Linked DNA regions of Homo sapiens: region 2 is linked to region 1. The links come from fine-mapping of genetic effects on gene expression. A gene starts in region 1. The other region holds a variant in brackets. All regions are shown on one strand. Distances are from middle to middle. Region 1 holds the start of TEK (TEK receptor tyrosine kinase). Region 2 overlaps TEK (TEK receptor tyrosine kinase).

Evidence for each region.
Region 2: its variant is fine-mapped to the expression of TEK in whole blood (INTERVAL, PIP 0.94).

What each region holds. Positions count from the first base shown.
Region 1 is chr9:27,106,485-27,110,886 of GRCh38, forward strand. It overlaps TEK (TEK receptor tyrosine kinase), which reads left to right and starts at 2,741. Exons shown (of 23, transcript NM_000459.5): 1 at 2,741-3,158. The coding sequence starts at 3,107. It overlaps LOC124902134 (a long non-coding RNA gene), which reads left to right. Exons shown (of 2, transcript XR_007061440.1): 2 at 1-57.
Region 2 is chr9:27,187,662-27,192,063 of GRCh38, forward strand. TEK (TEK receptor tyrosine kinase) reads left to right here. Exons shown (of 23, transcript NM_000459.5): 10 at 2,868-3,029. Among named protein-coding and RNA genes, the nearest start is that of TEK, 81 kb to the left of the region's middle. The variant G/T (reference allele first, on the strand shown) is at 2,590.

The DNA.
Region 1 (4,402 bases):
GTCTGGAACTTCATTGTATACCATGATTTTTAATAAATAATCCATTTTTGTTGACCATTTTGATTATTTCTAGGCTTTGATTATTATCAACTATGCTTCTATAATGTCCTTATACACAAATTTGGGGGCACATATTTGATTTTGGCTTGGTGTATATCATAAAAATGGATTTTCTGGTGGGGCGCAGTGGCTTACACCTGTAATCCCAGCACTTTGGGAGGCCAAGGGGGGGGGGGGGTGGATCATGAGGTTAGGAGTTCAAGACCATCCTGGCCAATATGGTGAAACCCCATCTCTACTAAAAAGTATAAAAATTAGCCGGGTGTGGTGGTGCACGCCTGTAATTCCAGCTACTCAGGAGGCTGAGGCAGGAGAATCGCTTGAACCCAGGAGGCGGACGTTGCAGTGAGCCGAGATAGTGCCACTGCACTCCAGCCTGGGCGACAGAGTGAGACTCTATTTCAAAAAAAAAAAAAACTGGATTTTCTGGGCCAAAGGGTATGCATACAAGGCTTTTGCTTTGTGTTTGTGATGTTGACCTCTTGACATGTGATACCAGTGTATAGTAGTATTATGTAAGTTATTTTCCACCTCTTTCAGAAAAACCGTTTTGTTATCTATTGATACCTTTGTTAATTAGTCTCAAAGACTTTTAATGTTGTCTATAGTGTTTTTCATGTATTGAGTGCAAAAAGCAGGAAATAGAAAATGAAGAATCAGCCAAGAGCCTTGTTTGTTTGTTTAGTTTGGTTTGGTTTTCTTTATGCTTTTACTGTAGGTATGTCTGGAAAAATCAAATTAAATGGAATGAGCTTGACTCATGAGGAGGCCCCTTTCATTTTCCTGAAGTGAATTAATACAGCACCCACCGATCCTGACATTAGTTATTTCAGAAGCACACTAAGAACTGACCGCACTTCTCAGTGTCACCAAACTATTCTTATCTGTCAAAGTTTCATTTCAAATACTTCTGTAAGGTCTAGGTGTACCCTGCTGGTGTTTGTGATGTCCTACATTACTCTTGATCTACTTTTCAACTATGAAACAAGGGAAAAATTGGAGGTCCAGAGCTCAGGATTCAGATATTATTACCTCTGCTACTCACAGCAGAGCAAGTAACTTAGCCTGTGTGGAACTTCATTTTTCTTTCTTTTTTTTCTTTTTTTTTTTTTTTTTTTTAGACAGAGTCTTGCTCTGTCACCCAGGCTGGAGTGCAGTGGCACGATCTCGGCTCACTGCAACCTCTGCCTCCCAGGTTCAAACAATTCTCCTGCCTCAGCCTCCAGAGTAGCTGGGGTTACAGGTGCACGCCAGCAAGCACAGCTAAATTTTGTATTTTTAGTAGAGATGGGGTTTTGCCATGTTGGCCAGGCTGGTCTCAAACTCCTGACCTCAGGTGATCCACTCCCAAAGTGCTGGGATTATAGGCGTGAGCCACTGTGCCAGGCCCACTGTTTTTGTTTTTTTTTTTCGTGATGACAAATTTAAAGTCATCTCATAGGAATAGAAAATAGCTTTTTAGTAGAAGCTCTTGGAATTTAAATTGAGACTGAATGGAAAGATGAAAGAAAATAAACTTATTAACATTTAATGAGAACCTTCAAAGAACTAGGCATAGTACCAAATGGTTTTATATTTTTAAACCTCATTTATTCCTCTCAAAACACCTGGGAAGGAGATATTTTTGCCATTTCACAGCTGTTGAAACTGAGGCTCAAAAAGACTAAGTAACTTTTCTCAGCTACACATGTGGCTGAGCCAGTATTTGAACCCAGTTCTGTTTGCAGACAGAACCTGGGCTTTTTCACACCTGCAAACTGGAAACATTAATTGGTTCTTAAGATCATCATCGATGTGATAAAACCTGGGACAGAAATTAGTCAAGACTAGCTGCATCTGCCTTTTCCTCTGGTGGGTAGGAAAAGGAGGAGTATAATGATTTCCTCAGGCATGAAGGTCGATGATGAGCAAAGTGTATACTCTCTAATCTAATGTCATAATTCATATTGTGGAGTAATTATCTGGATAAGTGTAGGGTCTCTGACCTCATTCTAGATATTGTACATTCCATGGCTATTTTCATTTTGGTCCATGAACTCTCTTTGCTCTCATGAGCACCATTTTTATCCCAATCTAATCCTGTATGTTTGTGTTTTTACACAGATTAGTTTTTAAATGTTATATATAATTTGCTTCTGAAACACCATTGCTCAATGACTACCAAATCTTTCTCATTACCAAAATCCTTCTATGCCAACTTCTTCAAGAAATTTGATCACCTTTAGATGAATTGTTAATGAAAATTAAAGCTATAGCCGGCAACATGGGTATCTTTGGGCTAATGGCCAACCAACAGGCCATCTGTGTGAAAGAAAACAGGCTAACAATTTTGGACTCTGGTCTCTTGGGGCTACATTGAGCATTGACCTCACCGGTGCTCACTGAAATTAATTGCTTTTCAGGTTGTATTTTCTCATCACGGAAACCTTCTTCTCCCAATTCAAACCATGTGGGTTAAAATGAGAAAACAAAAGCCAAAACGGCTTCCCACACCCAAAAGCTCCTTCTGTCAGAGATCCCAGTAGCCCCGGGAGAGCTGTTAGAAGTCTGAGAAGGATTGGTCATCATCGCATACCATACATAGGTGGAGGGCTTGTTATTCTCAGTTTCCCGCCTATGAGAGGATACCCCTATTGTTTCTGAAAATGCTGACCGGGACCCACACTTCCAACAAAAATTCCTCTGCCCCTACAGCAGCAGCAAAAGCAGCAGCAGAAGCAACAGCAACAGATAAGTGTTTTGATGAATTGCGAGATGGATAGGGCTTGAGTGCCCCCAGCCCTGCTGATACCAAATGCCTTTAAGATACAGCCTTTCCCATCCTAATCTACAAAGGAAACAGGAAAAAGGAACTTAAAACTCCCTGTGCTCAGACAGAAATGAGACTGTTACAGCCTGCTTCTGTGCTGTTCCTTCTTGCCTCTAACTTGTAAACAAGACGTAGTAGGACGATGCTAATGGAAAGTCACAAACCGCTGGGTTTTTGAAAGGATCCTTGGGACCTCATGCACATTTGTGGAAACTGGATGGAGAGATTTGGGGAAGCATGGACTCTTTAGCCAGCTTAGTTCTCTGTGGAGTCAGCTTGCTCCTTTCTGGTAAGGTTTGGCTTTATTTTTTTTAATTTAGTATTTTAAAAAACAGAGTTAGTGATTTCTGGGTGCTCTCCCCAAATCTCATCAGTGCTGATGAACAAGGGGTGGCTGTAGCAAAGGCACCATTTCTCTGTGAGTCTCCAGTCAATATGTGTGGAAGGATTGAAATGCAAAGGCTCTGTGGCATGAACTGATTTTGCTAGTTTGTCTTCTGGGTGATTGGCCCCTGTGTTAGAAACTCTTTGAGGACCGATTAAATCATCTTATTTGAAGAGATCCCCTTACTATCATGCATTATTTTCCTGCTCCTCATTCTGGAGTGTTTTTCTTATTGATTTTTTTTTTAAAGAACAAACCGGTTTTACCTGCTTTAAAGAAAATCTTCAGTAAAAAATGAAATTCATGCTGAGAAATACAGGGGCCCAATTAAGGCAGTGTATAGATTGTCACTGTTAAAAGGGAACAAAGATGCTTTTCTGTAAAAAGATTTTATATCTACATCCTATTTTAAGCAAAGCAATGAAATTGTAGGCTTTTTTTTTTTTCTTGTAGTTAGGGTCAGGGAGATTGGGGCTATTAGAATTTTTGTTTTATTTTAAAAAATGTTTGCCATGTAGTAATTCATAAAGGGTTTACTGGCCCAATGAAACAAAAATTTAGGCAGTTACCAAAATCTTTAACACAGGAGAGTATATGAAGCCTGTTGTAGAGTGAAGGAGTGGTTGGCCAGTGTGTTGGGTTCAGCGTGTTTATTGCTTAGATACTCCAGATAGTGGTGTGCCTCTGTAGCTCACTCAGCCTATGTGACATAGGTAGAAGGCAGTATCCAAACCTGAACTACATATCACAAATACATTTATCATTGCCATCAGTCTCTCCCCTTCGGTTTGAAAACATTCTAATTTTAATAACGAAAATCGAATTGATATTGGAGATGAATTTGGGAAAATTCACTAAACTTCATGGATATAGGGCATATTAATATAATTTGATTCGAGTATACATAAGTATCTGCTATATTTTCTAGGTGTTTGAACTATTTTATTAAATATTCAAAAAACAAATCCAATGAAATAACTGAGTTGAATACAGTTTGTTTTATAGCTCTCAACAACCAATATTTTGAGAATTTAATAATATTCTTTAAGAATGTGTAACACAAGTTGCTAAAAATTAAAAGATTTTAGGTGGCTTCAGTATTTATGTGGAAATTGTTTAAATAATGTTGACTTCTCCAATAATATGTA
Region 2 (4,402 bases), 81 kb after region 1:
GGAATTTATTTTCTCATAATTCTGGAGGCTACAAGTCCAAGATGAAGGCATCAGCAGAGTTTATTTCTTCTGCGGCTTCTCTCCTTGGCTTGTAGATGGCCACTGTCTCCCTGTATCTTCACAGGGAGATTAAATTAGGACACAGGTACAGGGTCTTCCCTTTGTACTTGTGTCCTAATTTAATCCTCTTACAAGGACACCAGTCATATTGGATTATGGCAAACCCTAATAAACTTATTCTAAATTAATTACTTCTTTAAAGGCCTTATGTCCAGATACGGTTACATCCTGAGGTACTAGGGGTTAAGACTTTAATGTGTGATTTGGGGGGAATACAATTTAGCCCATAAAATCATGCAGAGGAATGTTAAACAGTAATAAAAAAGAATTAATTTCCGCAACAGTATGGATGAATCTTGCAAACATGATAACCAGTGAAAGAAAGTACATGCTTTATGATTCCATTTATATAAAGCTAAAGAACAGGCAATACTAATCTTCAGTCACAGAAGTCAGAATAGAGGCTACCTCTGGGTAGAGGATATTGACTGGAAAAGGGCACACAGGTGCCTTCTGGAGGGCTGGGAATATTTTCTATCTTAATCTGAGTGGTGGTTACATGGGTGTACACATAGGTAAAGTCCCTTGAGCTAAATACACTTAAGATATTCACGCTTTACAATATGTATGTTCCATCTCAGTAAAAATGATTAAAAGGCAAAAAATAAAATAGTAGATTACTAAGAGGAAGCCTTTGTAGCAATTTTTAAACCCTTGTAGAAGTATCACAGACTGACATTAATGGCTGTAATAAAATGTGCATCTGCTGGTTTAAAGAAAGGGGTGGCCTTATTTTATCATACAAGGAAAGCATTACTTGAACAAATTTACTTACAGCACTGCCCTCCTTTCTAGCCTAAGTGAAATGTGTACTCAGACTTATCTAACTTAATATTGGCATGATCTGCCTCCAGTTAGGGGATACTGCTTCTTACTGGCTTTATTATCCTGACCTTGGACAACTTCCTAAGTCGTCACTTAGTCAATAGAATTTACTTTAGGCCTATTATGTTTCAGCCCCTGTTCTAGGCACTGGGAATAGAGCAGTGAATAATACAGGGGGAAAAAGACTCACCATGGAGCTTACATTCCCACAGGGAGATAAACAGTGAGCAAATAAATAAGTAGAATGTACAGTTCACGAAAATGCTGAGTGTCTTGGAGAAAATTAAAGCAGAAATGGGGGTAGAGAATGCTGGGGCAGGGCTGGAGTGGTGACTGTAATTTTAAATAGGGTAATCAAGCCTTCCTGAGAAGATATTTGAGCAAAGACTTGAAGGTTATGTCTAAGGAAGGTGAGCCAAAGCATTGAGACAGAAAGAAAAGGAAAAATTACTGAACATTGCAATGTCCTCTGAAATCTGAAAGGTTCTGCATTGTATAATACACACTCTTGGGGAGGAAAAACAAAACGAGTTATGCATTTCTAAGAAGGCTGGGCCAAGGGAACTATAGAGCTCATTGGAAATTCACTTCACAAACAATAACTCAGCACCTAGTCGGTGCTGGTGAACAAACTACACAGTCTTTGCCCTAATGGAATTTAGAGTGTAGTGTGGTGTTTCACAACCTTTTTATTATCATCCCACTAAGGAGCTCTTTTAGAAATTGTATTCCAGAACTCTCCCTCATCACCATAAGATTTTATTATCACAGATGTACTTTATATCTCTTTATGTACTATGGCTCTTTGGCGGGCTGCAACCCATTGTAATATCTAAAATTTTTGCATCCTCCAAGAACCAATTTTCATTGTTTCTGGGGCGCTGTCATCCCCATTGAGAAGATGTGGTCTTTGAGATGGGGAGATTGTTCTAGATTATCTGAGTGGACCCATTCCAATCCCTTGAGTCATTCAAAGTAGAGAAACTTTCCTGACAATAGTCAGAGATGTGGTGGTCAGAGAAGGATCAGAGAGGCCTGATGTTGTAGACTTTGAAGGGATAGGAAGGAGCCTTGAGCCAAGGAATGCAGGCAGTCTCTAGAAGCTAGAAAGAACAAGGAAACAGATGGTCTCCTAAGCCTCCAGAAAGGAACACAGCCTTGCTAATGCCTTAATTTTAGCACAGTGAGATGCATGTCTGACTTCTGACTTCTAGAACTATAATAAATTTGAGTTGTTTGGCTGAAAGAGAGAGATATATATATATAGAGAGAGAATGAATTATGATCTAGAAGAAAGACCAATATCAAATAATCAAATAATCATACTACAAAGAGTAATAACCCCTAAAAATCACCATGAAGGAAAAGTAGAGGTTCTGTGAAAGTATACAATACCTTAATTCAGTTTCTATGATAGCCACCTGTGAAATATTCACATCAGAGCTAAGAATTAACTGGGAGAATAATGGGAGGTGGAGCATTCCTTGCAGAAGAGAGACATCCACAATCAATCTAAAGAAAGGAGGTTCGTGCTTTGTTAGTTGGATGAAGTGAAAGGTCAGTGGGACTGGAGGGTACTAGGTGAGGGGAAGAGGAGGCTGGAGAGTGGGCAGGGGCTTAATCACTCAAGGCCTGGCTGGTCAC[G/T]ATATGAATTTTTGGTTTTATCCTACATGTGATGAGAATCCATTGAAGGGTCTTGAGCAAAGGGGCACATTTATTTTAAGGAAGCACTTTGAGGATAATGGGTTGGGGAAGCAAAAGCAAAGCAGAGAGCTTAGAGAGCAGGTGATCTCACTGAGTCTGAGCAGAAAACTTTAAGAGGACTTTGTTGGACATGTAAAACATATCTTCTACCTCTACCTAAGAACAATCACAAAACCTCAAAGCCGAAGGACTAATCTGCCTTCTGAAATTGTATTTAGTTCTTCCAAAGCCCCTGAATGCCCCAAACGTGATTGACACTGGACATAACTTTGCTGTCATCAACATCAGCTCTGAGCCTTACTTTGGGGATGGACCAATCAAATCCAAGAAGCTTCTATACAAACCCGTTAATCACTATGAGGCTTGGCAACATATTCAAGGTAAGCTTTGGACAGGATAGATGCCAGCTGGGGATGTGGCACCAGGAGAATTATTTTTCTCCAAATCTAGAAATTCCCTTCTCCCTGCCTCAATCCTCTACCTCAAGGTGGTGGCTGTTGCAGAGGATTCTGTTTCAGAGTATTCAAGAGAGAGTGCAGGGGGCCCCTGAGCTCTGGGGCTAACTTTCTGAAGTCACTGTGCGCTCTAGAACACAGAACCAGCTCACACCATGAGTTACTATCTATATCAATATTTCTTTTTGGATCTCCAGTCCTGTTTTTAGTTATTCTATCTTGGCTGGTCATGGGGAAAGGCACTTGTTTATGCCATGAATATGGTAGCAGGAAAGTCCAGAGCCTGCTGGAAGGGCAGAGAGGCTTAATCTGCCTAAATCCTGGGGGTGATTGTTGCTGCTGTATTGAGTTGTTTATTCCTTTTCTCATTTCATGTCTTGCCCTGTCCTGCAGACTCTTAACACAGAGAGATTTTTGAAGGAATTTGAACCTGCAAAGTTTGGGCTGTGGCAGACTGGAATGGGCTCGGGGGAGGACAAGGACAGGCAAAGGGAGCTACAGACCCCTCCCCTAACTTCCTGAAAGAAAAAAATAATTGAACAAAATGTGACAAAATGCCAAAAGTTCATGAAAACAGTTGAATTTATTTTGAAACACAAATTACAATTATATTTGTTGTATGATAATGTAAAATCACAATTTTAAAAAGCAAAGAGCATTATCAGTGACCATGCTGCTTCAATTGGACTATTCTGTAAAAAGACCTGCCACTAACATGCTTGTAGGCAGCATGTCCTCCTCCGCCCATACCTTTGTCTTACTATGCCTATGATTTCCTTAAAATGACCCTCTATTCACTATATGGAGATAATTAAGAAAACTATGGAAAAAAAAAAAGAGAAGAGGAGGAGGGTTTTGGGCTGAATAACACTAGCTGACCTGGGTAGACCGAATAAAATGGTATTATTACTGAGTCCTTCACATACTATTGTAGATTCTATCAAAATTCAGAATTCCAGGGATGTCAGGCTGATTTGCTGAATTGCTGTTTCCAACATCAATGGCTAGGTCTTTTGCTGTCATATGGTGGTAATAATCCATCACCTTTGTCTACAAGTGGACATCCACAAAGTGGTCTTCTAAGAACTGTTAAACACATCCCAGTTTTTTTTCTTACCAAGTAGGAATTTATCATATGATAAGGCAGAAATTTATCTTTGCAGTATCCATGGAGAAACAGAGGCTGACTAAAGCAAATAGGTAAGGAGAAAAGAGACAGATACCATTTGTTTATGGGTGCTATTTTCAAGGACTTCAGAATGCTTCATTGTAATAGTATGACCATTGCAAATCAGTTT